Linked DNA regions of Homo sapiens. The protein of the gene in region 2 interacts with the protein of the main gene of each other region in a pairwise test. Each region holds a gene or a part of one and is shown on either strand. Other genes may lie near its edges.

What was found.
Region 1: the proteins of DNAAF4 (region 2) and BANF2 interact in binary tests that used the Homo sapiens proteins (3 or more experiments, as listed by UniProt).
Region 3: the proteins of DNAAF4 (region 2) and SPDL1 interact in binary tests that used the Homo sapiens proteins (3 or more experiments, as listed by UniProt).

Annotation. Positions count from the first base shown.
Region 1 is NC_000020.11:17,694,404-17,704,612, forward strand, and holds the start of BANF2 (barrier-to-autointegration factor-like protein), read left to right. Parts: upstream 1-5,562; 5' UTR 5,563-5,652; intron 5,653-10,209. UniProt on the Homo sapiens protein: May play a role in BANF1 regulation and influence tissue-specific roles of BANF1.
Region 2 is NC_000015.10:55,503,336-55,513,394, reverse strand, and holds the start of DNAAF4 (dynein axonemal assembly factor 4), read left to right. Parts: upstream 1-5,160; 5' UTR 5,161-5,273; intron 5,274-10,059.
Region 3 is NC_000005.10:169,592,398-169,602,452, forward strand, and holds part of SPDL1 (protein Spindly), read left to right. Parts: intron 1-956; coding exon 957-1,151; intron 1,152-1,747; coding exon 1,748-1,897; intron 1,898-1,996; coding exon 1,997-2,095; intron 2,096-2,173; coding exon 2,174-2,284; intron 2,285-4,163; coding exon 4,164-4,304; intron 4,305-6,078; coding exon 6,079-6,182; intron 6,183-6,574; coding exon 6,575-6,762; intron 6,763-8,882; coding exon 8,883-9,228; coding exon of another isoform or gene 9,229-9,427; exon of another isoform or gene 9,428-10,055. UniProt on the Homo sapiens protein: Required for the localization of dynein and dynactin to the mitotic kintochore.

The DNA.
Region 1 (10,209 bases), on a different chromosome or scaffold from region 2:
AGGCCCTGAGGCAGGAGGGTGTTCGACAATCTTAGGAACTGAGTGGAAGCTGGTGAGGAAGTAGTGCTCATGAGCAAGGAGTTAAGAGGTCAGAAACAAAGGTAAGCCCTGGATTTATTAATATATTGTGTGAAACATTGCATCTAACATTGTAGTGTTTTATAGTTTGCAGGGGGCTATTTTTGTTTTTTCTCTCTCTTTTTTTTTTTTTTTTTTTTTTTTTTTTTTTTATTGAGACAGGGTCTTGCTTTGTTGCCCAGGCTGGAGTGCAGTCATGCCATCACAGCTCACTGTAGCCTTGACCTCCCAGGCTCAAGTGATTCTCCTCCCTTAGACTCCCAAGTAGCTAGAAATAGAGGTTCGTGCCACCAGGCCTGGATAATTTTTTTAAAATTTTCTGTAGAGACAGGGTCTCACTTGGTTGCCCAGGTTGGTCTTGAACTCCCGGACTCAAGCAATCTTCCTGCCTCAGCCTCCCAAAGTGCTGGGCTTATAGGTGTGAGCCACCGCACCCTGCCTGCAGAGGGCTTTGAACATACACTATCCTAATTCAATCATCCCAACAAACTGATTATATAGATAAGAAAACTGAGGCTCAGGAAGTAACTTCCTTTAGGTCATAAAACGAGGAAGTAGTGGGACAGGGACTTTGACCAAGGACTCTGTTTGCAAAACTCCAGAGTTTTTATAGACCACCATAAGCACTTGCCTTTAGCAGCTTGAAATTTTTAAAAAATGAACATTTTTCATTCTGTTATTTAAAAAGTAAGGCTGGGTGTGATGGTGTAATCCCAGCACTTTGGGAGGCTGAGCCCAGAGGATTGCTTGAGCCCAGGGGTTTGAGACCAGCCTGGTCAACAAAGGGAAGACCCCATCTCTACAAACAATAATTAAAAAAAAATTAGCTGGGCATGGTGGCATGCCTGTAATTACTCGGGAGGCTGAGGCAGGAGGATTGCTTGAGCCTGGGAGGTCAAGGCTGTAGTAAGCCATGTTCACAAACCTGCACTCCAGCCTGGGGTACAGAGCAAGACCTTGTCTCAAAAAAAAAAAAAAAAAAAAAAAAGTAGAGTCGCATAGGTAAAATTTTGGTAAATTTAAGAAGATACAAAAATTACCTATAATCTCATCTGTGAAACATAACAACTAGCACATTTTAGTGTATTCTTTCCAGTTTCTTCCCCTAGAAAAACCTAGGGTGTGTGTGTGTGTGTGTGTATTACACATTACATATGCACACACCACACATACATATATGTGTATATAGTCACCTTTATTGAGGTGTAATTTACATGCTCTAAAATTCACACATTAAGTGTACAAGTTGATGAATTTTGACAAATGTATACACCCGAGTAATCATCGCCATGATAGAGATCTGGAATATTCCCTTCATCCCATGGAGTTACCTGTGCCATTTAACCTGTTCCCCCATCCCCCACTCCAGGCAATCATTGACCTTATCTCTGTAGCCTCAGATCAGTTTTGTCTATTCCAGGACTTCATATAACAGGAACCATGTGTGTACTCTTCTATGTCTGGCCTCTGTTGCTCAGCATAATGTTTTCAAGGTTTATCATGTCATCATATATGCATCAAGAGTTTGTTCCTTTTGTTGCTGATTAATATTTCATTATAAGAATATACATTCACCTATTAATGGACATTCACCTGTTAATGGACATTTGGGTGTTTTTGGTTTGGGGCTATGATGAGTAAAGAAGTTATGACCATTCCTGCACAAATCTTTTTATGGACATGTTTTCTTTTTTCTTATTTATTGTAGAGATAGGGTCTTTCTATATTGCCCAGGCTGGTCTTGAGCTCCTGGCCTCAAATGATCCTCCTACCTTGGCCTCCCAAATTACAGAGATTACAGGCATGAACCACCACACCCAGCTTGTAGATGTGTTTTCATTTGTCTTGGGTAAATACCCAGGAGTAGAATCCTAGCTTATAGGGTAGGTCTTTATGTTTAATTTTACAGGAAACTACCAGACAATTTTCCAAAGTGGTTATATTATATTACATTATGTGAGAGTTCCAGTTGCCCCACATCTTTGTCAACACTTAGTATTGTTGCTCTTTTTAATATTAGCCATTCTGGTGGGCATGTAGAGGTTTTAATTTGCATTTACCTTATCACTAATAATGTCGAACATTTTTTCCCAGGTAAGTGTTTTTATAGTTGTAATTCTTTGTCTGGAGGCAGAACTAAAGACTGTTTGAGGCCATTTTTTGAGTCCTGGGTAATGCTGAAAATATTGATATTGTTATTGATGCAATGCTCTGGTACAGTAGGCTTCATTCTTCCTCTAGCCAAGTTGAAATGTGGAGGAAAATAACTCTGGGTGCCATGTTGCTAAAGAAATGATTTGTGTGAATGATCAGCCAAGCCGCGATTGGATCTTTTCAGTGGCAGTTCCAGAATTTCAGTACATGCCGTGTCTGATTGGAAGAATGGGAACTGGACTTGAAGAGTACTTTCTCGACATGGTGTTTTCATTTGGATTGTAGTGTGTTAGCAGGATCTCTAAGAGATCTGATGGTGATGATGATGATGGTGATGATGATGATAATGGGGAGGAGAATGTGGAAGGAGTTAGGGTGGAAACTAAGGCTCCCTGCAAAAGCTATGGCAGAGTTGGATTAATCCTACCACAGTGCAGGTGTGAGGCTGGGTGTAGCATGGTATTGAGCAGAACACCTAGGAAAGCATATTAATCCTAACAGGCCAGCAGATATCCCTAGCGAGCCTTCTCTAAACACCTGAAACTCCCCCAAAAGCATGAACAAGAGCCATATTTTATATGGTGCTAGCTCCACCTCCATATTCTTATTCCAGGAGGAATTGTCCAGGGAGATGGAAAGCAGGTGGAATTTGTGTAGCAAATCAGTCCCCTGGGGGTAGCACATTCAGGCCTCCCTGTGCAGAGGAAAAGGCCTTTGGGCCAGGTTGCCAGGCCTCCCCCTGAGCATATCAGCTCATGTGTTTCCTCAAGACATTCCTAATGATACTCCAAAGGCCAACCAGCAGAACACCTCCATCTGCCCTGAGACCTGACACTCACCGGTTCCCAGACATTCTGAATTATACCAAGCCAATTTATATAGTTTCTCCATCTAAATGTGAACTTACAAAGAACAGACATCATTTCTTATTTACAAAGTCTTAGTTTGGGTTCCCCCTGAAGCAGACCCTGAAACAAGGATTTGAGTGGAAGCAGTTTATTTGCAGTTTGATCCCAGGAAACATAGGTAGGGGAGCGGGGAAGTGAGGCAGGGGATGGGGGCAACAATGTGGGGTATGTTAGCAAGCCAGTTGCCACTGTGGGCACTGATATGGTTTGAATATTCGTCCCCTCCAAATCTCACGTTGAAAAGTGATTGCAATGTTGGAAGTGGGGCCTGGTGGGCGGTGTTTGTGTCCTGGGGGCAGATCCCTCATGAATGTCTTGGTGCTGTACTCATGATAGTGAGTTCTTGTGAGAGCTGGCTGTTTAAAAGTGTGTGGTACCCGGCCGGGTACGGTGGGTCATGCCTATAATCCCAGCACTTTGGGAGGCCAGGATGGGCGGATCATCTGAGGTCAGGAGTTTGAGACCAGCCTGGCCAAAAAAGTGAAACCCCATCTCTACTAAAAATACAAAAAAATTAGCTGGGAGTGGTGGTGGGTGCCTGTAAATCCCAGTTACTTTGGAGGTTGAGGCAGGAGAATTGCTTGAACCCGGGAGGCGGAGGTTGCAGTGAGCCGAGATCACGCCATCGCATTCCAACCTGGGCAACAAGAGTGAGACTCCATCTCAAAAATAAAAAATAATAATAAAAAAAAAAGGTGTGTGGTACCTCCCTTGCCTTGTTCCCACTCTTGCCATGTGATACACTGGCTCCCTGTTTACCTTCAGACATAATTGTCAGCTCCTTAAGGCCTCACTGGAAGCAAAGCAGGTGCTGGCACCGTGCTTCCTGAACAGCCTGCAGAACTGTGAGCCAATTAAACCTCTTTTCTGTGGAAATTACCCAGCCTCAGATATTTCTTTATAGGAAGAGAATGGCCTAGCATAGGCACCTACGGGTGGGTCCTGTGGGTCCTCTGGGACATGGAACAGGACATGACTCCAGGTTATTCCACCTGAGCAGGGAGGGAGCTGGGTTATTTATCTACCAACTGATAATAGTCATTGAATGAGGACATTCTGCAACTTGCAGCTGCCCGCTTGTAGGCAGGGTGGACTCCAGCAGCTGGCAAAAGCCCCCAAGCAAAGATACGCAGGTACTGGCAGCTGGGAGTCAGATTACCTTTGTACAATGAAGTTGTAAGGCCAAGAGGCTATGGGCAGGGCACTGACAACGTCAGTTGTGCTTCCCCAAAACGTGGCTCAGTTCTGGCAATGAATAGATCCTCAGTAAAGCGTGCTGGTTGAACCCAGAGAGCTCAGCCAGCTTTGGCCCCAAAGCTACAGCTCCTGTTTATTCTCCAGCAACCCCTGAATACTGCCATCAGCTGGCAATACTATTTCAGGATCAAACCTAAGATACCAGCACCCTTACATGTTCTTAAAGTGTGTAGTCTCAGAGCAAGCAGCCTCAACGTCATGTGGGAACGTGTAAGAAATGTGAATTATTGGGTTCTCCCCCAGACCTAATGAGTCAGAAACTTTGAGAGTGGGGCCCAGGAATCTGTATTTTAACGAGTCTTCCAGGTCATTCTAATGCAACCTACAGTTTAAGACCCACTGTTTTGGACTCTAAAATTTAGGGCCACCCAACAGTTTCCAAAGCGAAGCCGTTTGCTCTTGGTTAGAACTCCTCCATCCCCAATCCCAAGCACCAGCAGCAAAAGGGAATGGAATCTCTGGAAACATTTTATACTTTGCCCCCTTTTTTGAGTTTTTCTTTTCTTTTTAGGCTTAGTAAATATACATTGTACCAAGTTATCAATTACCAACAATGGAAAGTAGCCCAGGCATATATGCTATAGAGGATAACCTAAAAGACACCTGTGTTGAATTTAACTTGAAGGTGGGAGGATTTATATTTCTGCTTGTTTTCCTGAGCTAATATTTAAGTTACTTCTCTTTCCTTGAGTCCCTACCAGGTGGGCAGTAGGGGGAAAGTCACGGGTATACTGGTAGAAGAAAAAGCTGCCCTGGAATTTCAAGTCCATCACAGAAGATGTGCAAGGAGCTGGGGGTACCCACGGAAGTCACTTTGTGCAGGAAAACTGCATGAAGGATGGACTTGGTTTAACTGAATTGACGCAGGCCAGGTGAGAATAGGAACCGTGGCAGCAAGTGGCAGCAGGTGGATTCATAAGCAGTCTTCCAGGCTGATGTTTTCTGTACAGCAGACATCCCTCACTCTTTCCCAGCAACCCCAGCTGAGAACAGCACCCAGACAGGCTGATTTCTTCTGGAGAGGCCTGAGGCTCTTGCTCCTGCCCTGCCCTGTGCCCTGATGCCAGCAGCCACTGCAGCCCTTTTTGTGCTCACCCCCGACCTGTGGTGTGACATCACAATGTAGTCCATTCAGGATCTTGAGACTGATTTGCCCCATGGGCCTAAGACATAAGCTGAACCTCTGGCCTGCAGTTCCAGATCCAAGGTGACTGAGACAAACTGCCAGCTGCCACTGGCTTATCAGGAGCACCTGGTGAGTATTCAGAACTTTCCCAAGCAGCATGGAAGGAGATACAGCCAACAGCTGGCTGTCTTAGCACTTTAAGGTCTCATTCTCACACAGGTTTAGATGAGCCAAACCGGTGGACAGGAGTTCACCAGGTAAGCCCCAAACTCTTCCTAGGAAAGCTGACTCACCTGATGCACACACCCCTTCCCAGCCTCTTCCTGCTGTGTCACCATCTGCGGGAGGTGGTACTCTAGTCTCCCCTAAGACTCGGCTTGCCACCTGCACCAGCTCCCTGGGCAAAGGTCACCTGTGTTCTTAATAGAGCAGAGAGGCCAGGCTTTCAGATGGCAAATTCACTAGAGCATCACTTCTAGCCCTAATTGAGGTCAGGGACAGCCATTGGCCAAATGACACACCACATAGCAGGATGAGCAGAGGTAGCTGACACAGCCACCTCCCGTCCAAAATGTGAACGACGGTCCTTCCTTTCTGTAAGAGGCCTTCCTGCTTTGGCTGTTTTTAAATCCACCTCCTGGTGACCTGCTGGTATATCAAATCACTTCCTTTCCTTTTGGGACAGTAAGAGAGCTTTAGGATCGTGACGGGAAATAAGGAGATGGATTAGAACACCAGGAAAGTGGGCAAAATCTAAGGTAGCGGGGACAGGGACAGAGGCCAAAGCCATCTCTCAAAGAGGATGCTGGCTCTTTCCATATGGGCCACCTGCACTCGGCTGAGGGTGGTTTGAGACTCAAGGCCTTCTATAACAAACAGTAGGGACCCGTTCTGGGCCCCAGGAGGCACAGCTGCCTTCCCTACCATGGCCCATTCGTGTTTTCCCACAGTCTGTCTACGGTCCATTCACCATCTGTGAGTGCCAACACGTCCACACAGCTGCAGCTGCGTCCCTTCTCCCACAAAGGAGTGGCTTCTATAGGGACCCCATGATTTTAAGAAGGCTCCTGGCTCTCCTTGACTGTGTAAGGTAGAAAGGGAGGTGGTGGGGGGTGGATCAGAGAAATATTTTACCCTTAGGCTTTGCCATCCCTCCTTAGTTTTATATGTGATGGGCTGAAGCCAACCTCTGCTTCACACACAAATCCAAGACGCCAATGGTTCACCAAGCATGCTAAGAACATTTTAGCCTATGTTAGGCCCCACTGGAAAAGGAAAAAAGACAGTAGAGGGGCCGGCGCTAGAGCAACCTGTGGTCCCCGTCCTGCAGCAGGTTTAATTTGGAGAGGAGAAAGGGAGCAAACGCTGAACCTCCCGTGCCAGACCCACCAGCTATGTTATTGCTCTTAATTCCGACCTCTGTGAAGCAGGTGTTCTCAGGTTCATTCTACAGACATAGAAACTGAAGACTGTTCTGTGCTGGTGCCACGTCTAAAGAGGGTCATTAACCTGGAGCATGCCTTCACTCTCTATCGACTATCCCCAACATTAGAGCTCTCTGAAAAGAGAATGGGCTGCTTTGCAAGGCAGCAAGAGTGTGCAGGCCACGGCTCTTCCATCAGCATGGAAGGGAACGGGATTCTTGTGATCAGCTGGGAGCTGGACCAAAAGACCTTTAAAGGCTGTTTCCAAATCCAAGATTGTAGGTTTCTGGGTGTTAGTACTTTGCCCACCCTCTGCGATTGAACTCAGGTGGGTCACGCCTTAAGGACGGCTGCAAACTTTCTGTTAGGCAAGGAGAACTGGGAAGAACCATAGAGATCAGCTACGGGCCCCAGGTAGGAAAGAGGAACCCAGGCTGGTTGAGGGAGTTTTCCAAGGCTCCAGAGCCAATTTGCAGAGTTAACCTGTGTTGACTGAACAAATGGAGGAGCCAGTTCTGAGTGCTGATCAAACGTTCCCATGCCCATCTCTCTCATTCACCTGGTTCTTTCCTATCAAGATTATGATTCAGCCACCATTTACAAAATGCCTGCTGCATGCCAAGTGTGTTTCCAGAGATTATTCCACCTACTCCTCCCCAGCTCCATGAGGTGGGTGTCATCAGCCCCGTTTCTCAGATGAGCATGGTTAGGTAACCACCCCAGAGGATCAGGTACTTGTGGAGATGTCATAAATACTAAATGACGAAGCAGGTCTTTCTAACCCCAAGGAAAACTTATGTCTCCATCTGCCGCCTCCCAGCTTGTGTGAGGAAGCAGGGTCTCCTTTCTTAGCCTTTCCCTAAGGCAAACTGCCATCGATGTGCCAAGTTCCACAGTGCCTATTTCCAGCTCCTCTTGGACGTTGCCCTGATGGATGCTGAACTCCCTGTGGGCCCGCCTGTTTCACTGGCCCGGCCCCTCACTCTGATGGGGCAAGATGGAGCGATGTCTATACACGGACAGATGTTATGCACCAAGGAAGAAAATCTGCTAATCGAAAGCAGCTTCAGCTAATTGTGGCACTCTCCCTTCTGCGTGGTGCCCTGAAATAGTAGCCATGCTCTGTTCTTTTTTCACATCAGGGAGCCCCAACTGGCAACTTAAATGAGGTTGCAAAGAAGTCAGTTACACAGACCTCTGCTGCCAGTTTCCATGGATGAGGCCTTGCTGATGCTCCTTGGATAGGACCCGTGTGCAACTGTTTGTGGACTTGGCTTCTTGCTGTGGATAATTTGGACCCACTGTTGGGCTGGAAAAGCCTCATTTAACCCTGGGGAAAACTGGAACCTTCAGAAATTTAATGGAATACTAAGCCCAAGAACACATGGTCTGACCTTGAACCCTGGTTCTGATCTGCTTCTGAGTTATTCTATAGCCATCTCAGCCAACAGAACCGTCACGGGAATATTCTGTCTCTGTGTTGTCTCATATGATAGCCACTAGGCACACAGGGCCACTGGGCACTTGGGATGTGGCCAGTGGGACTGAGGAGCTGCGCTTGTTGTTTAAATGGAAGCTTAGATTACATAGCCATCGGTGGCTGGTGGCGGTGTGCTAGACGCTGCTGCTCTGGGCCCTGCTGACTTTTGTGACTTCATCTCTGATCTCATTCCCCTCTCCTGGCTTTCCCTTTCCCTCTGCCTTCACTCCCAGACCTCCTGTGCTTTTTGATTTTTGCATTTGCTGTTCTCTCTGCCGGCATCACTTTTTCCTCTGATCATTTTATGGTTTGCCCCTGTTCAACAGGAGGGCCTCAGATCAAGTGTGTGTCTTCAGAAAGATCTTCCCTATTCTACCTAATTGTGTCCCCAGCCCCATTCCAATTGCTCCTTATCTCTCTGAAGTTACGTTTGTGTGTTTTCTTGTCTACTGCCCTATCCCTGGATAAAAATCCCAGTTTCACCAGAGCAGGGATGCAGTCTGCCCTCTCCCACTCCATCTCTGTGCCTGGAACAGCGCCTGAGAGGCAGAAAGTGCTCAGTATGGTGCTTACAGTGTGTGAACATTCTGCAGGACAGCCCCCTCCTTCAGTGAGGAGGAAAGGCGGTCATGGCCCCAGTAACTTCTGCTGTGTGACAAAATAACATGAGCACAGCGGCCTAGAACAGCAAAGATTCGTATTTCTTCCAATTCTCTGGGTCTGGAATGTGAGCAGGACTCAGTTCCACATTGTGTCACTGAGGGTCACTCAGCTGGGGGCTAGGCTGGACAGGGTGGCCCAAGAAGGCCTCACTCACACAGCTGGGACTTTTGGGCTCTCCAAGAAACATCTCTATGCGGTTTGTCTGGGTTTTCTTACAGCATGGAGGTCTCAGGGCAAGTAGGCTGACTTTTTTTTTTTTTTTTTTTTTGACAGTGTCTTGCTCTGTTGCCCAGGCTGGAGTGCAGTGGTGTGATCTTGGCTCACTGCAACCTCCGCCTCCCAATCCTGGGTTCAAGCGATTCTCCTGCCTCAGCCTCCTGAGTAGCTGGGATTGCAGGTGCCTGCCACAATGCCCAGCTAATTTTTGTGTTTTTAGTAGAGATGGGATTTCACCATGTTGGCCAGGCTGATCTCAAACTCCTGACCTCAGGCCTCTGCCTCGGCCTCACAAAGTGCTGGGATTACAGGTGTGAACCACTGTCCCCAGCTGGCTTCTGAGAGAGGAAGCAGAGGCTGCCAGGCCCAGAACTGGCAGCACCATTTTTATCACCTTCTACCGGGCTAACTAAGCCATAGGGCGAGAGCCCAGATAAAAGGGGAGGGGAAACTGTCCACTTCCTGGTGGGTGGGCAGGATGTTCATACCAGCAGGAAGGGGTCTATGGACACGCTACACAGTCACTTCAACAGTGCTGTGGTAGTGCTTCTCAACTTTGATCATGCACATGGGCCATCTGGGGTCTAGTTAAGATGCAGATTTAGTAGGTCTGGAGTGGAGCCTGAGATTCTGCATTCCTAACAAACTCCAAGAGACGTCAAAGCTGCAGGCCCACAGGCTGCACGTGGAGTAGCAAGGCTGTATTAGAATGCATCCTATCAGGACTGAGCCTATGCTTAGGTTTGACATTGCAGGGCCCTCAATTCCACTTCTAGAGTGGACAGCACTTCTTTGGGTTAAGCATTACCCACTGTTGCTGAGGTCTACATGATCGGTCCCTTCTTCCCAGGCATCTGGGCTTGTGCCCACATAGGGTAACTGTCCCATCCTACCTCCCAAGCA
Region 2 (10,059 bases):
AACTGAAAAGGCCTACGAAGTAACCCGTGTGCTTCCCTGAGACCTTATTCCTAGGTTTGGACTGCCCTTACGAATTGGCTTAGATAATGGGCCGGCGTTTGTGGCTGACGGTTTTTGAAATAAGATTAAGGGCTGAAGACTAGTGGGGACGCGTAAATGATACAAGTAAAGTAATAGCCAGAACAGAAGAGAAAGGGGTGCCCAAACACATAATCTTGAAATTTGATGCCTGTGCTGTCATTAGTGGCAGTAAATTAGGAAAGGGATGTGGCTCTTTTGGGAAAAAGGCGATATGACTGAAAATAAGTACATTTGTCATGAATTAGGACTGTGTGGAAATGAATGTGAACACTGGTCTTGTGTCATTTAGGCCACTTGGATAAAAAAATGAAAAGGATCCAGTCCACTTCAGAAAGGAAAAAGTGGCCCTTCCTGTACTAAGGGACAATGTAACCCCTTAGAGCTAGCAACAACCAATCCCCTTGATCCTTGCTGGAAAAGAGGGGAGCATGTGACCTTAGGAATCGATGGGGCAGGACTGGATCCTTGAGTAAATATCTTAGTTCGAGGAGAAGTTTACAAACGCTCTGCTCAGCCAGTGTTTCAAACTTTCTAAGATGAACTAAATGTGCCAGTACCAGAAATTCCAGGAAAAACAAGAAATTTGTTTTTGCAATTAGCCAAGCATGTAGCCCAGTCTCTCAGTGTCACTTCATGTTATGTATGTGGAGGAACTGTGATGGGAGATCAATGGCCATGGGAAGCCCAAGAATTAGTACCTACAGACCCAGTTCCCAATGAATTCCCAGCTCAAAAGAGTCACCTTGATAATTTCTGGACCCTGAAGCCTCAATTATTGGACAATATTGCATAGCTAGAGAAGGAAAATAATTCACTCACCCCTTAGGACAACTTAGTTGTCTGGGACAGAAACTGTATAATGGTACCACAAAAACAGTCACTTGGTGGAGTTCAAATCACACAGAAAGGAATCCATTTAGTAAATTCCCAAGGTTGCAAACCATGTGGACCCACCTGGAGTCCCACTAGGACTGGACAGCCCCCACTGGATTATACTGGCTATGTGGGCATAGAGCTTACGCTAAATTACCTGGCCAGTGGGCAGGTAGTTGTATTACTGGCACTATTAAACCATCTTTCTTCCTACTGTCCATAAAGACAGGCGAACTCCTGGGCTTCCCTGTCTATGCTTCCCATGAAAAAAGAAGCATAGCTATAGGAAATTGGAAAGATAATGAATGGCCCCCAGAGAGAATCATACAATATTATGGACCTGCTACTTGGGGACGAGATGGTTCATGGGGATACTAGACCCCCATTTACATGCTCAACCAAATCATATGGTTACAAGCTGTCTTAGAAATAATCACTAATATGGGCTGGGCGCGGTGGCTCACACCTGTAATCCCAGCACTTTGGGAGGCCAACGCAGGTGGATCACGAGGTCAGGAGATTGAGACCATCCTGGCTAACATGGTGAAACCCCGTCTCTACTAACAATACAAAAAATTAGCCAGGGGTGGTGGCGGGTGCCTGTGGTTCCAGCTACTTGGGAGGCTGAGGCAGGAGAATGGCGTGAACCTGGGAGGCAGAGCTTGCAGCGAGCCGAGATTGTGCCACTGCACTCCAGCCTGGGCGACAGAGTGAGACTCCATCTCAAAAAAAAAAAAAAAAAGAAAAGAAAGAAAGAATCACTAATAAAACCGACAGAGCCTTGACTATTCTGGCCTGTCAAGAGACTCAGATGAGAAATGCTATCTATCAAAATAGATTGGCTCTTGACTACTTGCTAGCAGCTGAAGGAGGGGTCTGTGGGAAATTTAACCTTACTAATTGCTGTCTACACGTAGATGATCAAGGGCAAGTAGTTGAAGACATAGTCAGAGATATGATAAAACTGTCACATGTGCCCATGCAAGTGTGGCATGGATTTGATCCTGGGGCCATGTTTGGAAAATGGTTCCCAGTGTTAGGAGGATTTAAAACTCTTATAATAGGAGTTATATTAGTAATAGGAACCTGCTTACTGCTCCCTTGTTTGCTACCTGTACTTCTTCAAATGATAAAAAGCTTCATCGCTACCTTAGTTCACCAAAATGCTTCAGAACAACTGTACTATATGAATCACTATCGATCTGTCTTGCAAGAATACATGGGTAGTGAGGATGAAAGTGAGAACTCCCACTAATTGACTGAGGTTCTCAAAGTGGGGGAATAAGGGAGGAGACCACCCCTCATATTGTCTTATGCCCAATTTCTGCCTCCAAAGAAAGAAGTAAAAATTAAAAGGCAGAAATGGAATCCACAGGCAGATAGCCCAGCATCACGCCCTGGGCCTGGTAGTTAAGAATCAACCCCTGACCTAACTGCTCGTGTTATCTATAGATTTCAGACATTGTATGGAAAAACATTGTGAAAATCCCTGTCCTGTTTTATTCCGTTCTGATGACCGGTGCATGCAGCTCCCAGTCACGTACCCACTGCTTGCTTAATTGATCACGACCCTCTCACGCGGACCCCGTTAGAGTTGTAAGCCCTTAAAAGGGACAGGAATTGCTCACTCGGGGAGCTCGGTTTTTGGAAACGTGAGTCTGCTGATGCTTCCAGCTGAATAAAGCCCTTTCCTTCCACAACTCGGTGTCGTCTGAGGGGTTCTTGTCTGTGGTTCGTCCCGCTACACGTACAGGGTAATGGTTTAATATTTCATGAATAATATTAATTGTATTTCAAAATTAATGTGGTTAAATATACTGATATACTTTAATACATTTTTTCAACAGTTTAATGTTTTGGCATAGATAATAAATACAAATAGGAATTTGCATTTATCTAATGACAAAATGTTAACATTTTAAACTCTACTCAGTTATAAACTAAACTCAATTTTAAAATGTTTAAAAAATGTGTGGATGACACAAAAACAAACCTTCATGTTTGTTTATATTCTCCCCTTATTAATCCTCTTTAAGGATTAATTAAGCCTACAAAATTCTACTTTAATAATAGTTGTTCTCCTTAAGAGTCCCTTAAAACTTTTTTTTTTAATTAAATAACTAGGCCAGGTGTGGTGGCTCACACCTGTAATCCCAGCACTTTGGGAGGCTGAGGTGGGTAGATCCCCTGAGGTCAGGCATTCAAGACCAGCCTGGCCAACATGGTGAAACCCCGTCTCTACTAAAAATACAAAAAAATTAGCCAGGCATGGTGGCGCATGCCTGTACTCCCAGTTACTAGGGAAGCTGAGGCAGGAGAATCACTTGAACCCAGGAGGTGGAGGTTTCAGTGAGCCAGGATCACACCACTGCACTCCAGTCTGGGCAATGGAGCGAGACTCCGTTTTGAAAAAAAAAAAATGAAATAAGTGGTATTGTGCCAAAACAAGTCTAATAGGAAAAACAATCAAGCTCATACCCTATAAATATATATCTAAGATATTAGGACCCAAAAGAAAAGGAAAATTATGCAGGGTCACTTCACATTCTACATGACCTCTACCTAGATATTCTCATTTAATTTTAAATCACATTATCATTTCCGAAAGCCCAAATTTAAAATAGTAAAATAACTAATGCATTTAACACCTAGTGCCTAGAGTTTGGTCTGTAAAGCTATTCTCCACTAAATAGAACTAAAAGTTCTTGGAGAATTTCAATTCCTAGAGAAAAAAAAAGAAAAGAAAAACCTTTAAGGTGGACCTAAGTGATCTTGCTACTAGAATGAGGGATTTTTTTAAATGCCTTTTAAAGTTCCAAAGTGGTGTTAAGAAAACATAGAAAGCAACCTTTTCCAATGGCAAAATTTCGAATTTTGCACATCAAAAGTAAATAAAATTATAGGTAATTAATTTTAGGTTACGAATAGTAAATCATACTTAATTTTTGCTCCATAATGTATGCTTACACTCTCTAAGAACCTCAGGATATGAAATAAGGAAATAAGTATGCTTGTGTACTATAGAGATTGTTTTGAAATTTTTACTTTAAACTTGTAATATTTTTTACAAACAAAATAATTTATGGATTTACATACATAAACTATTAATAATAAAAGGAATAAGTATAAATCTATCACTGAAAATTACAGAGAGAGGAAAAAAATAACCTGGTGATATGGTTTGGCTGTGTCACCACCCAAATCTCATCTTGAATTGTAGTTCCCATAATCCCAACGTGGGGACCCAGTGGGTGATAACCGAATCATGGGGGCAGTTACCTCCATGCTGCTCTTGTGGTAGTGGGTGAGTTCTCATGAGATCTGATGATTTTATAAGGGGCTTCCCCCTACTTTGCTCTGCACTTCTCCTTGCTGCGGTCATGTGAAGAAGGACGTGTTTGCTTTCCCTTCCACCAAGATTGTAAGATTCCTGAGGCCTCCCCAGCCTTGCAGAATTGTGAGTCAATTAAACCTCTTTCCTTTATAACCCAGTCTTGGGTATGTCTTTATTAGCAGCGTGAGAACAGACTAATACACCTGTCAGTCTCCTTCATGCTTTCTGATTGCACGCTTTAATGCAATGACCAGAATCAAACAGAAACGACCTTGGGTGTTTTCTCTGGATTTTCCTGGGCAACCAGCCAGTGGGACCTGGACCTTCTGGCTCACAGTTGGAGGGGCTACACCTGAACTCAGCTTTTCATGGGATGGACAGTTTCTTCCAACACAAGTTCCAACAACTTTCTGTTTGACCCAAGGTCTCCAGATACTGGATAATGGGCTTTTTCAAAAAATACCTATCGGGCCGGGCGCAGTGGCTCACGTCTGTAATCCCAGCACTTTGGGAGGCCGAGGGGGGCGCATCACGAGGTCAGGAGATTAAGACCATCCTGGCTAACACAGTGAAACCCCGTCTCTACTAAAAATACAAAAAATTAGCCGGGCATGGTGGCGGGCGCCTGTAGTCCCAGCTACTGGGGAGGCTGAGGCAGAAGAATGGCGTGAACCCGGGAGGTGGAGCTTGCAGTGAGCTGAGATCGTGCCACTGCACTCCAGCCTGGGCGACAGAGTGAGAGTCTGTCTCAGACAAACAAACAAACAAATAAATGCCTGTAAACAGACTGCCTGGTGCTCTAGTAGTTTCCTTACTGACAAAATTCTTTTTGTGTGTGCCCTATAAATAGGAGAGCAACAAGAGGATGGGATTCCTCTCCTATTATGCAAACCCACACCATGGATCCAGCAGACTACTCTGGCCCCAGCATGCTGCTCCTTGGGATGATGGGAGAAGGGGGAAACCTGTGTTTTCTCTTGGTTTTGTAAGTTTCCCCTTTCCCCAGTAAAACTCATCCCTTAATCTAGTGGTTCTCAAACTTTGGTGTGTATCAAAATTATCTGGTAGGCTGGATAAAACACAGATTGCTGTGCCCCACTTCCAGAACTTCTGGTTCAATAGATCTAGAAGGAGACTGGGAATTTGCATTTCTAACAGGTCCCCAGATGATGGTAATATTGCTGGTGGTGGTGGGGAGGACCACATTCTGAGAACCTCTGTATTTAATTTTATTTGTATTTATTTATTTTATTTATTGTTTTAATTTAATTTTTGAGTCCCTGTTACTCAGGCTAGAGTGCAGTGGCATAATCATAGTCCACTGTAACCTGAACTCCTGGCCTCAAGTGACACTCCCAAAGTGCTGAGATTACAGGCGTGAGACACAATGTGCATCCCGGGCCTTCGTTTTAATTCATACAGTGTGACTATGTGGTAATCAGTTCTGTTGGTTACCAAAAAGGCTCCCACTTGTATGAACTTCACATAAGAGTTAACCACTCTCCTTTCTAGTGCCTATCTTTACAGACGACCCCTGACTTATGATGGTTTCTCTTTGATTTCCTAACTTTACAGTGATGCAAAAGCTATATGCATTCAGTAGAAACCATGCTGTGAGTACCCATACAACCATTCTGTTTTTCATTTTTAATACAGTATTCAATAAATTACAGGGTATATTAGACACTTTATTACACCTTATTATGTTAGATGACTTTGCCCAACTGTAGGCTAATGTAAGTGTTCTGAGCATGTTTAAGGTAGGGTAGCCTAAGCTATGGTGTTTGGTAGGTTAGGTGTTTTACATGTATTTTTGACATAGGATATTTTCAACTTATGATGGGTTTATCAGGAGGTAACCACATTGTAAGTAGAGAAGTGTTTGTATAGTTTTACCACATACCTAGGAATCCTTATCTAGTGGATTCAGTTTCCGTTGTTCAAAAGTTTTATAAAGGCCAGGCATGGTAGCTCATGCCTGTAATCCCAGCACTTTGGGAGATGGAAGTGAACGGATCACCTGAGGTCAGAAGTTCGAGACCAGCCTGGCCAACATGGTGAAACCCCACCTCTAATAAAAATACAAAAAATTAGCCAGGCTTGGTGGTGGGTGCCTGTAATCCCAGCTACTCAGGAGGCTGAGACAGGAGAATCGCTTGAACCTGGGAGGCAGAGATTGCAGTGAGCCAAGATGCCCCATTGCACTCCAGCCTGGGTGACAAGAGTGAAACTCCATCAAAAAAAGAAAAAAGAAAAATAAAAAAGTAAAAGTTGTATAAAATAGCATTATTTCTTGAGGATATTATTTGACTTGCTTTTTTCACTCATCCATCCAATGTATAGCTATCATTCACTCATTTTTATTGTTGTATAATATTCTGTTTTGTGTATATACCTGTTGAAAGACATTTGGCTTATTTTCAGGTTTTTTTCTATGAAGTTGCTATGAACACCTATAAATGTTTCCTAGTGTATAGGACCAAGACTTTTTCTAGGGCAGTAATTCTCAGATGGGGGAAATTTTGCTATTCCCACCCACCCCTGAAACCCAGAAGACATTTGGCAATGTCTGGAGACACTTTTATTATTAGAACTCAGGAGTGTTACTAGAATTAAGAGGGTGGATGCTGCTAAACATCTTAAAATGCACAGAGCAGCCTAAATTATACAAAATGATCCAGCCTATAATGTTAATAGTGTGGAGGCTGAAAAACCCTGTTGTAGGACAGTGGTTCACAAAGCATCAGCATCACCTAGGAACTTGCTAGAAATCTCTAAGATAGATACATAGGAGTGGAATTGCTGGTTATAAAATAAGCAGGTATTCACATTAATAAGATTATGCCAATTTGCCCATTTTATTGTGGGGTTGTGTTTCTTTTTCTCTATATATTTTGTTTATATGTTCTCTTTGTTTATTATTGAGAAAGAGGGCAAAAAGCAGCCCCTGATATTCAGAAGCTGACCTGGCACTCACAGCTTGGCCATAATATTATTCTGTTGAACATTAACAATTTAAATCTCATAGAATACCAAGCTGAGACAAAAGTACTCTGAGATCACAATAAAATGAGACAAGGCCACTTCATAGCATTATCTAAGCATAGGCAAAAACAAGGTCTTTGTGTCACCCATAAGATAACAGACACCCCCTTTCTGGATAAAATGTACAACAGCTACTTTTTTTATTATTATACTCTAAGTTCTAAGGTACATGTGCACAACGTGCAGGTTTGTTACATAGGTATACATGTGCCATGTTGGTTTGCTGCACCCATCAACTTGTCACTTACATTAGGTATTTCTCCTAACGCTATCCCTCCCCCAGCCCCCCCACCTCTCAACAGGCCCCAGTGTGTAATGTTCCCCTCCCTGTGTCCATGTGTTCTCATTTTTCAACTCCCACTTACGAGTGAGAACACGTGGTGTTTGGTTTTCTGCCCTTGTGCTATTTTGCTGAGAGTGATGGTTTCCAGATTCATCCATGTCCCTGCAAAGGACGTGAACTCCTCCTTTTTTATGGCTGCATAGTATTCCATGGTGTATATGTGCCACATTTTCTTTATCCAGTCTATTATTGATGGACATTTGGGTTGGTTCCAAGTCTTTGCTATTGTGAATAGTGCCTCAGTAAACATACGTGTGCATGTGTCTTTATAGTAGCATGATTTATAATCTTTTATATATACCCAGTAATGGGATTGCTGGGTCAAATGGTATTTCTAGTTCTAGATCCTTCAGGAATCTTCACACTGTCTTCCATAATGGTTGAACTAATTTACACTCCCACCAAAAGTGTAAAAGTGTTCCTATTTCTCCACATCCTCTCCAGCATCTATTGTTTCTTGACGTTTTAATGATCACCATTCTGACTGGTGTGAGATGGTATCTCACTGTGGTTTTGATTTGCATTTCTTTGATGACCAGTGATGACAAGCATTTTTTCATATGTCTGTTGGATGCATAAATGTCTTCTTTTGAGAAGTGTCTGTTCATATCCTTTGCTCACTTTTTGATGGGGTTGTTTTTTTCTTGTAAATTTGTTTAAGTTCTTTGTAGATTCTGGATATTAGCCCTTTGTCAGATGGATAGATTGCAAAAATTTTCTCCCATTCTGTAGGTTGCCTGTTCACTCTGATGATAGTTTCTTTTGCTGTGCAGAAGCTCTTTAGTTTAATTAGATCCCATTTGTCAATTTTGGCTTTTGTTGCCATTGCTTTTGGTGCTTTAGTCATGAAGTTTTTGCCCATGCCTATGTCCTAAATGGTATTGCCTAAGTTTTCTTCTAGGGTTTTTATGGTTTTAGGTCTTACATTTAAGTCTTTAATCCATCTTGAGTTAATTTTTGTATAAGGTGTAAGGAAGGGATCCAGTTTCAGCTTTCTACATATGGCTAGACAGTTTTCCCAGCACATTTATTAAATAGGGAATCATTTCCCCATTGCTTGTTTTTATCAGGTTTGTGAAAGATCAGATGGTTGTAGATGTATAGTGTTATTTCTGAGGCCTCTGTTCTGTTCCATTGGTCTATATATCTCTTTTGGTACCAGTGCCATGCTGTTTTGGTTACTGTAGCCTTGTAGTATAGTTTGAAGTCAGGTAGTGTAATGCCTCCAGCTTTGATCTTTTTGTTTAGGATTGTCTTGGCTATGCGGGTTCTTTTTTGGTTCCATATGAACCTTAAAGTAGTTTTTTCCAATTCTGTGAAGAAAGTCATTGGTAGCTTGTTGGGGATAGCATTGAATCTATAAATTACCTTGGGCAGTAGGACCATTTTCGCAATATTGATTTTTCCTATCCATGAGCATGGAATGGTCTTCCATTTGTTTGTGTCCTCTTTTATTTCACTGAGCAGTGTTTTGTAGTTCTCCTTGAAGAGGTCCTTCACATCCCTTGTAAGTTGGATTCCTAGGTATTTTATTCTCTTTGTAGCAATTGTGAATGGGAGTTCACTCATGATTTGGTTCTCTGTCTGTTAATGGTGTATAGGAACGCTTGTGATTTTTGCACATTGATTTTGTATCCTGAGACTTTGCTGAAGTTGCTTATCAGCTTAAGGAGATTTTGGGCTGAGGCTATGCGGTTTTCTAAATAGACAATCATGTCGTCTGCAAACAGAGACAATTTGACTTCCTCTCTTCCTACTTGAATACCCTATATTGCTTTCTCTTGCCTGATTGCCCTGGCCAGAACTTCCATTACTATATTGAATTGGAGTGGTGAGAGAGGGCATCCTTGTCTTGTGCCGGTTTTCAAAGGGAATGCTTCCAGTTTTTGCCCATTCAGTTTGATATTGGCTGTGGGTTCCTCATAAATAGCTCTTATTATTTTGAGATACGTTCCAACAATACCTAGTTTATTGAGAGTTTTTAGCATGAAAGGCTATCGAATTTTGTCAAAAGCCTTTTCTGCATCTATTCAGATGATCATGTGGTTTTTGTCTTTGGTTCTGTTTATGTGATGGATTATGTTTATTGATTTGCGTATATTGAACCAGCCTTACATCCCAGGGATGGAGCCGACTTGATCGTGGTGGATAAGCTTTCTGAGGTGCTGCTGGATTCGGTTTGCCAGTATTTTATTGAGGATTTTTGCATCGATGTTCCTTAGGGATATTGGCCTAAAATTATCTTTTTTTGTTGTGTTTCTGCCAGGCTTTGGTATCAGGATGATGCTGGCTCATAAAATGAGTTGGGGAGGATTCCCTCTTTTCCGATTGATTGGAATAGTTTCAGAAGGAATGGTACCAGCTCCTCCTTGTACCTCCAGTA
Region 3 (10,055 bases), on a different chromosome or scaffold from region 2:
ATAGAGACAGGGTTTCACCATGTTGGTCAGGCTGGTCTCTAACTCCTGACCTCGTGATCCGCCCACTTCAGCCTCGCAAAGTGCTGGGATTACAGGCCTGAGCCACTGCGCCTGGCCAAAATTACATATTTAAGCTTGCTTATTTTTTCCCAGTATACACTAAAACAAACATAGCTATCTAAATATACCTTCATGTAATATATAATCATCTTGCATACCACTCTGACAGATAATATCATCCAGCTTGTCTGAAACTAGTCGGATTTGAGGCCCTAATGACTGATAATGATGTGCTTTCTTCCCCCTCTGGTTGTTATTTTTATTTTTGCAATAGTTTTCATCACCTAAACAAAAAAGAGTAATAAAGGGAGTATTCAGGACTGAGGTAAGGCTAATTATAGAGATGGCTTTTTTTTTTTTTTTTTTTTTTGGTGGAGCAAAGAGTACATTAGTGAAATATTTTGTTTTACTGATTTTCTCAAATCACTTATGCCAAAATTTGGATTTTTTTAATACCTTTTCTTCTCTTATTTTTCACATTTAATTCATCAAGTTCTAAGAACTTGACCTACAAAACATCTATGACGCTACTGCCACTCCAATCCAGACCTTCATCATCTCTTTCCTGGACTACTGCTGTAGCCTTCTGACCAGGTTGCTTGCTTCCATTGTTTCTCTTCATGCCAGTCATTCTTCACACAGTAGCCAAGTGGTCCGCATCATAGTGCCTCCAGATTGCTTCTGAGGCATCCAGACCCACCCCGATTACTCATGGATTATTTCTATGTTTATTAAACAAGGTGTGTCACTAGCTGTTAAAAGATGCCTAACCTTGGGCAAATAGGAAACTCCAATAGTATCATCATTCAGTAAGTTTGGTTCAATCAGTTCAATCAGTGATTGTTTTTAGAAAGAAAATAACTTTCAATTTATGACTTTTTTTTTTTTGGCTTTAGATAGAAAAACTGAAAGTGGAATTAGATGAAGCCAGGCTTAGTGAAAAGCAGCTGAAGCACCAAGTAGATCATCAGAAGGAACTCCTCTCTTGTAAATCAGAGGAACTGCGCGTAATGTCTGAACGTGTGCAGGAAAGCATGTCTTCAGAGATGCTGGCTCTTCAAATTGAGCTGACAGAAATGGAGAGTATGAAGGTAATTTTTATGGCATGTGTTTCTCAGGGTTTTCTCTTTTTTTTTCTGGCATATTTTTACATGTTTTGGTAATAATTCTTAAGAGCTAGTTTGAAGGCTGAAACATTTTTTGACCTAACTTGCATCTAACTAATTAAAAAATGGGTTTTTTTTAGGTGGATGACTTCATTCATAATATAGCTTTAGACTATATGATTATGTAAGGCAGCCTTTCTCTTAGATTAATGAAACGTCTGGAAGAATTTAGAGGCATATACTCTGATCCCAGATTTTATCGTAAGAGCCCAGTGTAAAACGTTGGCTCAGTGGAAGTTGAAATGCATGTGAACTTGGTTTTTTCATTGAAAGCTAAGGTTAATTAAAAATTAAAGCCTGAAATTGATAGAGGAAAAAGGGCAGTCTCTAAAGCCATTTGTTTCCTTGTTGAAAAATTTAACAGTAATAGTAATTTCTATTATTTTAGAATGTACCTGACAACTTTTGACTGGTTCTTTAGTTTTAATTTTGGATGTGAACCACAACTGAGATAAACTGAGCAGCTGCCAAATGAAAGATTATTCAAGAGAATTTCCTCCTTTTCAATTCCTGTTAAATAGACCACCCTCAAAGAAGAAGTGAATGAACTACAATACAGACAAGAACAGCTAGAACTTCTTATTACTAACCTAATGCGCCAGGTAGACCGGCTTAAAGAGGAAAAAGAGGAGCGAGAGAAAGAAGCAGTTTCTTACTATAATGCCCTAGAGGTACTATGATTACAGTAACATCATGTTTTCCAATTTATCATAACTTATTTTCTTGCTAATGTAATCTCTGTTGCCTAAATTGTTTTCTTTTGAATTTAGAAAGCTCGTGTAGCAAATCAAGATCTTCAGGTACAGTTGGACCAGGCACTCCAGCAAGCCTTGGATCCCAATAGTAAAGGCAACTCTTTGTTTGCAGAGGTACTTATAAGTATCCTAACTACTAAATTGGTATTTTCATTTACTACCAGAACAATTAAGCATGTTAATATTTTGTAGGTGGAAGATCGAAGGGCAGCAATGGAACGTCAGCTCATCAGTATGAAAGTCAAGTATCAGTCACTAAAGAAGCAAAATGTATTTAACAGAGAACAGATGCAGAGAATGAAGGTATAGAACTTTCACTATCAAAGGTTTATTAAACAAATTTTGTGTCAGCATTACATGTATGAATACATCAAAGAAACTAGCTTTTTCTGCAAGGAGTGTACTTATATAGTTGTTTCTAGAACTGCATGATTTCAAAAAATCAATTTTGAAATTAAAAGATTCATTTATAGTTTAAAAATCTTGGAATAAATATTTAGTAATAGTATATTTAGCAATGATTATTGTTTGTTTTAATGGTTACTCACTAGCTTTGACTTAAATCTTTCTTTGTGGAGTAGAAGAAAGAAAAGTATTTATTTCTTATTCTTGGCCTGATGTCTTTCCAAGCATAGCCCTAGGGTTCCTACTTCAGCTGAAACTCGCTGCCTCACCATTCCTCTGCTCTTTCACCAAGGCTTATTATGGAGTGAAATTTGGATTATTCAGGGTTCCCTTTCCTTGTAGCTCCTCAAGTCAAGCACATAGACCCTTTTAATTTTACGGGTTTTGTTGGTTGTCATTCTAGCCAAATAAGAGGTAGCAGAAAAACATGTGGGAATTAGAAAGATTTCAGTATTGTAACAGTCCTTAGAATCCTGATCCCTCATCCATTGTGCCTCACTCTACTGAGGTAGTAATTGGAATCTGGAAAGGCTTCCTTCCTTTTATTCAGAATCATGGGCTTTGCCAAAGAAATGGGAAAGGTTAATGATTAAATTTGGGAGTTAGGTGGATTTGGGTTTGAATCATAGTTTTGTCACTTGCTAGCTCTGTGACCTTGGACAAGTATTTTAACTTTGAAAGCAACAGTACCTCATCTATTAAGTGAAGATGATAGAACCCCCTCTTAGAATTGTCCTACAGTTAAATGAAAGTGTAGTAAAATACTTAACCTGCTACTTGGCAAATGAGTGTTTAATGAACAACAGCTGTGAATTTTATTTCTAAGGGTTTCCAGACTGTGCTGCCTCATTTCCTGAGACTCTCCCCTGTCTGGGAAGTATTTCTTTATAAATTTTCTCACGTTTACTTTAGTTTTCTTACAGTATTTGTTGGGGTTACTTTTAATCTACCAATGTTGCATATGTCCCAAACTATCTTTAGAGACTAGAAGCATTCTGAGTCTTAGGCTAAGTGGGCCTAGCCTCCAATCTGAAACAGGAACAAAAAGGATATCCTTTAAAATGTTAAAAGTCATCTGCAACCTCATATCATTGATTGTTTTACTCAAAACTATATTTAAACTAATAGGCACTCTTTTCAACTCCAGAAATTTCCAAAGGCAGAAAGAAATGCTAGATTTAGAGTCTACTTAATTTCCCTCTGGTAGCTTCACAACTCCAGATTTGGGGTGGGGGAGGTATAATGAGGTAAGTTGAGTGCTGCTCTAAAAAAATTAAAACATGGTATATTGAAGATTACCCCAGTATACTAAGATAGCCTTTTATCTTTGCTTTTAACGTCATTTGTGAATCTAACATTTGTGGCTGTCAGTAGCTTAGTTTTCCTCACTTAATTAAAGTTAATTAAAAATTTTGAGAAACCCATCAGAACCTTAATAAGAGCGAGTGCTTATGATAAGCAGTCTGCAGCGTTTGGCCAGGCTTACTTACCAGTTCAGTGGTGTGCTTTCAGACCACAGCCATGCAAGTCAGTTTTATGTTTCACAAAAGTACAAATAATTACATTACAGACTTCAGTTATCATTCATAAGTAGTCAAAATAAGTATTCAAATGTTATGTCTACAAAAAAATTTATTATTAGATTAGAAATAGCTAATTTAGTTTCCAAAATGAGTTCAAAGTAATATAGTACAAATTATGAATTGTATCAAAAAAGTAGTTATCAGAATCTTTCTCTCACTTAATTTTATTAGAGGGGGTAATTTTATTTTTCTAGTTACAAATTGCCACGTTGCTACAGATGAAAGGGTCTCAAACTGAATTTGAGCAGCAGGAACGGTTGCTTGCCATGTTGGAGCAGAAGAATGGTGAAATAAAACATCTTTTAGGTGAAATTAGAAATCTGGAGAAATTTAAGGTATGTATAACAGTTAAAAAAACACACATCCAAATTTTGATTTGAATATCTTAAAATTTGGTTTGTTTTTTAAGTTTAAATTATTAATAAATATCTTGTGGGAGATACTTTGAGACTAAGTAAATGGCTGTTTCTCCTTATACTTAAACATCCATTGGTGATTCTTGCCTGAAACATAATTCTGTGATGATTGCTAAATGGGTAATTCCATCACTTCTTCTATATTTATTAGTTGGAATTTTAGTAAAGGGACAGAAAAGAAAAATCTTTTTCCTCACTTACTCATTCATTTATATCAGTATAGCCTCATGGATTCTTATTTTATCCTATGAGTTATAATCCATTGCTTGCTTTATTTACTCTGATACTCAAATTGTCCCAGATTTGATAGTCGAAGTGCTCTTACTTGAATATTTCCTTACTCTATGGCACAACAAGGGTTTCCTAGCTCACCTGGCCCACTTCTGGGATTAGCATTTCTTCAAGGAACATTGGTTTATTTTAGTTGAGAATGGTATTTGTGTAAGCATTTGTGTGTGTGTGTGTGTGTGTGTGTGTGTGTGTGTAAGAATTCACCCATGTTTTCTAAATAAGTAGGCAGTTGTCCCAGAGTCATTTGTTAAAAAATCAATCTTGATCCCAGTGATTTGAGTTGACACCTTTATCATACATCAAGTTTCCATATATACTTGAGTCTGTTTCTAAATTTTCTGTCTACGCCATTGGTCTGCTTCTCTGTGTGTCTGTACCACACTGTTTTATTAATTATAAAGGCTTTTAAGTATGTTTATCTGGTAGGACTATTTCCTCACTATACTTTTTATTTTTCAGTATTTTCCTGTCTATTTTTGAATGTTAGCTTTCATTTACAAACATCTTGTCTAGCACCAAAAAAAGCTTGTTGGCTTTCTATTAAAATTGCATGCAATTTAAGATTTTATAAATTGACTTAGGGAACATTGATATCTTCATTAACCTCCTAATGAACTAAAGTTCTAAATGACAAATTTTTGTAAATGTTAATAACCTCTTAGGCATTCTAAATTGTAGCCATTAGTATGTCATAAAATCTTAATTAAGTTTACATAACTTTATTTCTGTGTCTTATAAAAACTGTTGAAAGAACTACAAATTTGGTTAAGTTGGCAGCCTTATGTTTCCATCAGTGGGCTCAGAACTATACTCTGAAAATTATGGCCTTAAATCAGGGGAATTTTATTTATAACCTGAAATTGTTTCAAGTTTTTAAGCAGATTTACCTTTTCTATCCCACTAGAGAAATGTATAGTTTCCATCAGTCTCAGAAGAGCTTGCACTACATTCTTGCCTGGGGTGGGGGGAAGAATCTCAGAAGAGGGGGACACCAGATATAAATGTAAGGCTCTCATCTTCCTTTCATATTTTTCCAGTTTATGGTTTTGTTACAAAGGCCAGAATTTAATCCAGCAGGCATTTGTTTTTCTATTTTCAAAGCCAGGAGAGAGAAGGCAGAGCATGTAGGTAAGGCTAGAAGCCTAGGCCTTGTAGTCAGATTTGGGTTCAGGTTCTCTCTTCTTGGTTTACTTTCATCTGTATTCGGAGCCTGTTTCCTTATCTGTAAGAGAGGAATGTTAATTATTTACCTACTTCAGAAGGCAGATAAATTAAATGGGTAGTTCTTAGCGTAGTACGCCAAGGGATATAAATTCAGGAAGTGATGGTGCTATTATTAATAAACATACACTAACCTTATTTGTTATTTATTTTAAGTAATACAAACTTTTGCTTTTTTAAGAATTTATATGACAGTATGGAATCTAAGCCTTCAGTCGACTCTGGTACTCTGGAAGATAACACCTATTATACAGATTTACTTCAGATGAAGCTGGATAACTTAAAGTAAGTGTCTGGGTTGGTGGATGGAAAGATGAACATGTCACTTGCTTACTATGGTAGTGTCAGTGACTACAAAGTTTTTTTGAAATTGCCAAAGGAAATTTTCCGAAAAGAAAGGTAACAAAAATATCTTTGTGCAGATATTCATGTGTGAATACATTTGAAAGACTATTTCCTCCTTTGTCCATTTCCTTTCAAGAATGCATGAGTATTTTTTAAATTTAACACTACTATTGTTAAGGATTATTTAAATTGTTTATTGTTTCTTTGTTACTAAAAACCCCAGAAAAATGTATTTTTAACTAAGAATTCAAATATGCGATGAAATATTTATACCACTACACTTATTATATGCTGTCTTAATACTCGTTGGTTCTCCTTTTTTATTATCATAGCAAAGAAATTGAAAGCACTAAAGGTGAATTGTCCATACAGCGAATGAAAGCATTATTTGAGAGCCAGCGGGCTCTAGATATTGAGCGAAAACTTTTTGCAAATGAAAGATGCCTCCAGCTTTCAGAAAGTGAAAATATGAAACTGAGAGCTAAACTAGATGAATTGAAACTAAAATATGAACCTGAAGGTATATATGTCTCATATATTTTTGTCTTTTAAATTATGAGTAACCTGAAATTATATCAAATTATTTTCTTACTGTAGTTTTATGCAACTCTATTACAAACTCATTTGTAGTTATATACCTATAGTTAATAAAGCAAATTTATTGTGTAAAATAGGTAGGAAAATTCAGGGAGAACTGGATACTGGGTGTGCCTGAATATAACATGTATCCTTTTTGGATATCTAATTTCATCATACTGTATAGTAGAAACTTGAGATTTGAGACTTTCCCATTTTAAGATTACAGTATTTTATGTCATACCTAATAGTTTAATTATGTTGAAGCAGCTGATGTTTGGAAGCTATACGAGGTAGGACTGTTTATAGAAAATCTAAAGTAATGGAGACTTTAAAAAGGTGGGTCTTTATCTCTGCCTCTGATGGAAGTCTGGAGGAGGCCTTCCAGGACTGGGAAAGCACTCCACGGTATCAAGATTCAGGCTTCTTGTGTTTGTTGGTCTGCTGCCATCCTGTGGAGCAGAATTTAGTCATGCAGCCTCACCTGCTGACAGGAAGGGCTGAGAAATGCAGTCTTGATTCTCAGGGGCCATGTTCCTAACTAAATATTGGGAATTCTTTTATTAAGGAAGAACAGTGAGCCAGGCGTGGTGGCTCGTGCCTGTAATCCCAGCTCTTGGGGAGGCAGAGGGAGGAGGATAGCTGTGCCCAGGAATTTGAGATTTGCTTGGGCAATATAGCAAGACCCCATTCTCCACCAAAATGGGGGGGAAAGGAAAGAACAATGAAACATATTAGGGAATATCTAGCAAGTCTAATGACTGAGCTGGAAAGTAGCCTAACCATACAGTCTCTGCATCTTATATACTACAGAGAGTGAAGTTTACTGTATGTAAATTCAAAAACAAAAGGCCAAGTGTGAAGGAGTCTAAGAATGTGATGGTTCTACAACACCCCTTCCCTAAAAGAGTGTTACATGTTTTAGGTTAAGGATTCTCAACAAGTTTTTGTCCCCGCACTCTGCACATGCCTCAGTCTCTCTTCGTATTGTCTCAGTGAACTGCTATGATTCTCAACAATAGTGGGGAGGTTGCCAAAAATAGGAAGGTTTTTACACAATTTTAAAAGGCTTCTCTTGCTCTTAACTCTTTTTGTTTCTTCCATGATTCTAATAGGCTCCCCTGATTAAGAATTATCCATTATGAATTTCAAACATCTGTTGAACTGAACACAGCAAATAGACAGGAGGCAGGGTAGTGAATCCTGATAATGTGGGTTTCAAAGGAGCAGTGCCAGAAAAAGGGGAAATCATGGTCTAAAAGCAACAATGTAGAGCAAAAACAGCAACCCCTTGTGCTACCAGTGTTCCTCAGACTCCACTAACATTTTGATTTTGAAAATGAAACACATCGATAATGGGCATAGGGAAAAGATATTAGAGCAGTTAATTCAGTGGCTGTGTTTATGACCTGTTTAGATAGAATGATATTAGGCCATGAGGATAGAAGGCATTGCAGTAGTCTTTGATGAGACATGATAGGATTGGACTAGGGAAGTATCCATCATAAAAGTAGTCTGATTCTGCTTATATTTTGTAGGTAGAGCTAACAGGCATATATTACCAATATTCAGAAAGTTTGGCCTATTCTTGTCATTTAATCCTTCTAATACACAATACCAAGTGAAGTGGGTGCTTTTAATCCCCATTTTACAGATAAAATGAAGCTCAGAGAGGTTAAATAATTCCCCAAAGACATGGCTGTCACATACGAGGATTAGGATTCGAACCTGGACTCTGCCGCTGTCTCTTCATCTCCACACTGAGATCTTATGAACCACCTTTTTCAAAACACCAAGAGAGAACAGTGAAGCATTCATGCCTAAAGTCAAAATATTGAATTCCCAAGGAAAAATATATAGCCAAATAAACTTTAAAATATATAGTTTATATAGATTCCATGATAAAGAATAAAAGGTAGAAACAAAGGATGCATTTCAGTGAGGAGATGGTTGCATTTTAAAAGAATGGAAAAAGGTATACATATAACTAGTTCTGGCTTCTTGTGTTGATTGTGTCTTTGTTTTCTTAGATTTTTTCTTTTCCCCACTCGTTTTTATTCTCAGAGACAGTTGAAGTGCCTGTACTGAAAAAGAGGCGTGAGGTGCTCCCTGTGGATATAACCACCGCTAAAGATGCATGTGTCAACAACAGTGCTCTCGGGGGAGAAGTTTATCGATTACCGCCTCAGAAAGAGGAGACACAGTCCTGCCCTAACAGTTTAGAAGATAACAACTTGCAATTAGAAAAATCAGTTTCTATATACACACCAGTAGTCAGTCTCTCTCCTCACAAAAATCTGCCCGTGGATATGCAGCTGAAGAAGGAAAAGAAATGTGTGAAACTCATAGGAGTTCCCGCTGACGCTGAGGCCTTAAGTGAAAGAAGTGGAAACACCCCTAACTCTCCCAGGTCAGTGTCCTCTTTTCCTCCAGGCAGCCAGCAGACCTCTCCATCTCTCCTCTCTCGCTGCATGAACTGTGCTGTCTGTTTCTTTATCTACTTTCTTACAATTGCATGCAGTATAATTCCTCAGTTTCATCTACCTACCTTCAACTTTTCCAGAACTTTAAGAAAGACTAAACTGATTGCAAAGGGAAAGGACTCTTGAATAAGGCAATCACATTAAAAAGTTACACGTTTCTGTTTCATGAAAGGGAATATCACAGTTTAACACATCTCTGAATGTTTTATCAGTTTGAATACATGTACTGTTATTTTTCTCCTGGTTCAAGCATGGCCATGAAAGAAAAATTAACTTACTTTCTCAAAGGGCTTTCCAGTAGTCTAAGAAATTTCAGCCTTCTAGGAAACTTAGGTGAATTTTTTATGTCTTTTGAATTGCTTATCCTAGGCATTCAAAAATGGGCTTCAATACTTATTTTGACATTTTTACATATCAAAGCTAACTCATTTTCATTGTTTCCAAAACTTGAAAGCCTCTAGTTTCTGCATAATTGAGTTTGTGACTAAAAGAAATAGCGTCAGATATGTGTGTCTGAAGGAATTAATGTCCCAAGGGCTTTGTCTTAATAAAAATAATTGAGGTCAGAAGGTAAGAGAAAGTGAATGGAAGGGAAAGGTAAGTAGCAGTGGCTGAGGCTCGAGTTCTGGATGTGCGCAGCAGGAGAAGTGAATGAGGAAATTGAAGAAAGTAAAAGAAAGATGAAGGATGTCTGCATGCAATGGGATTGTTAGAGGCATTTAAAACAAATATCTAGACATTCAAAAAGATGTGC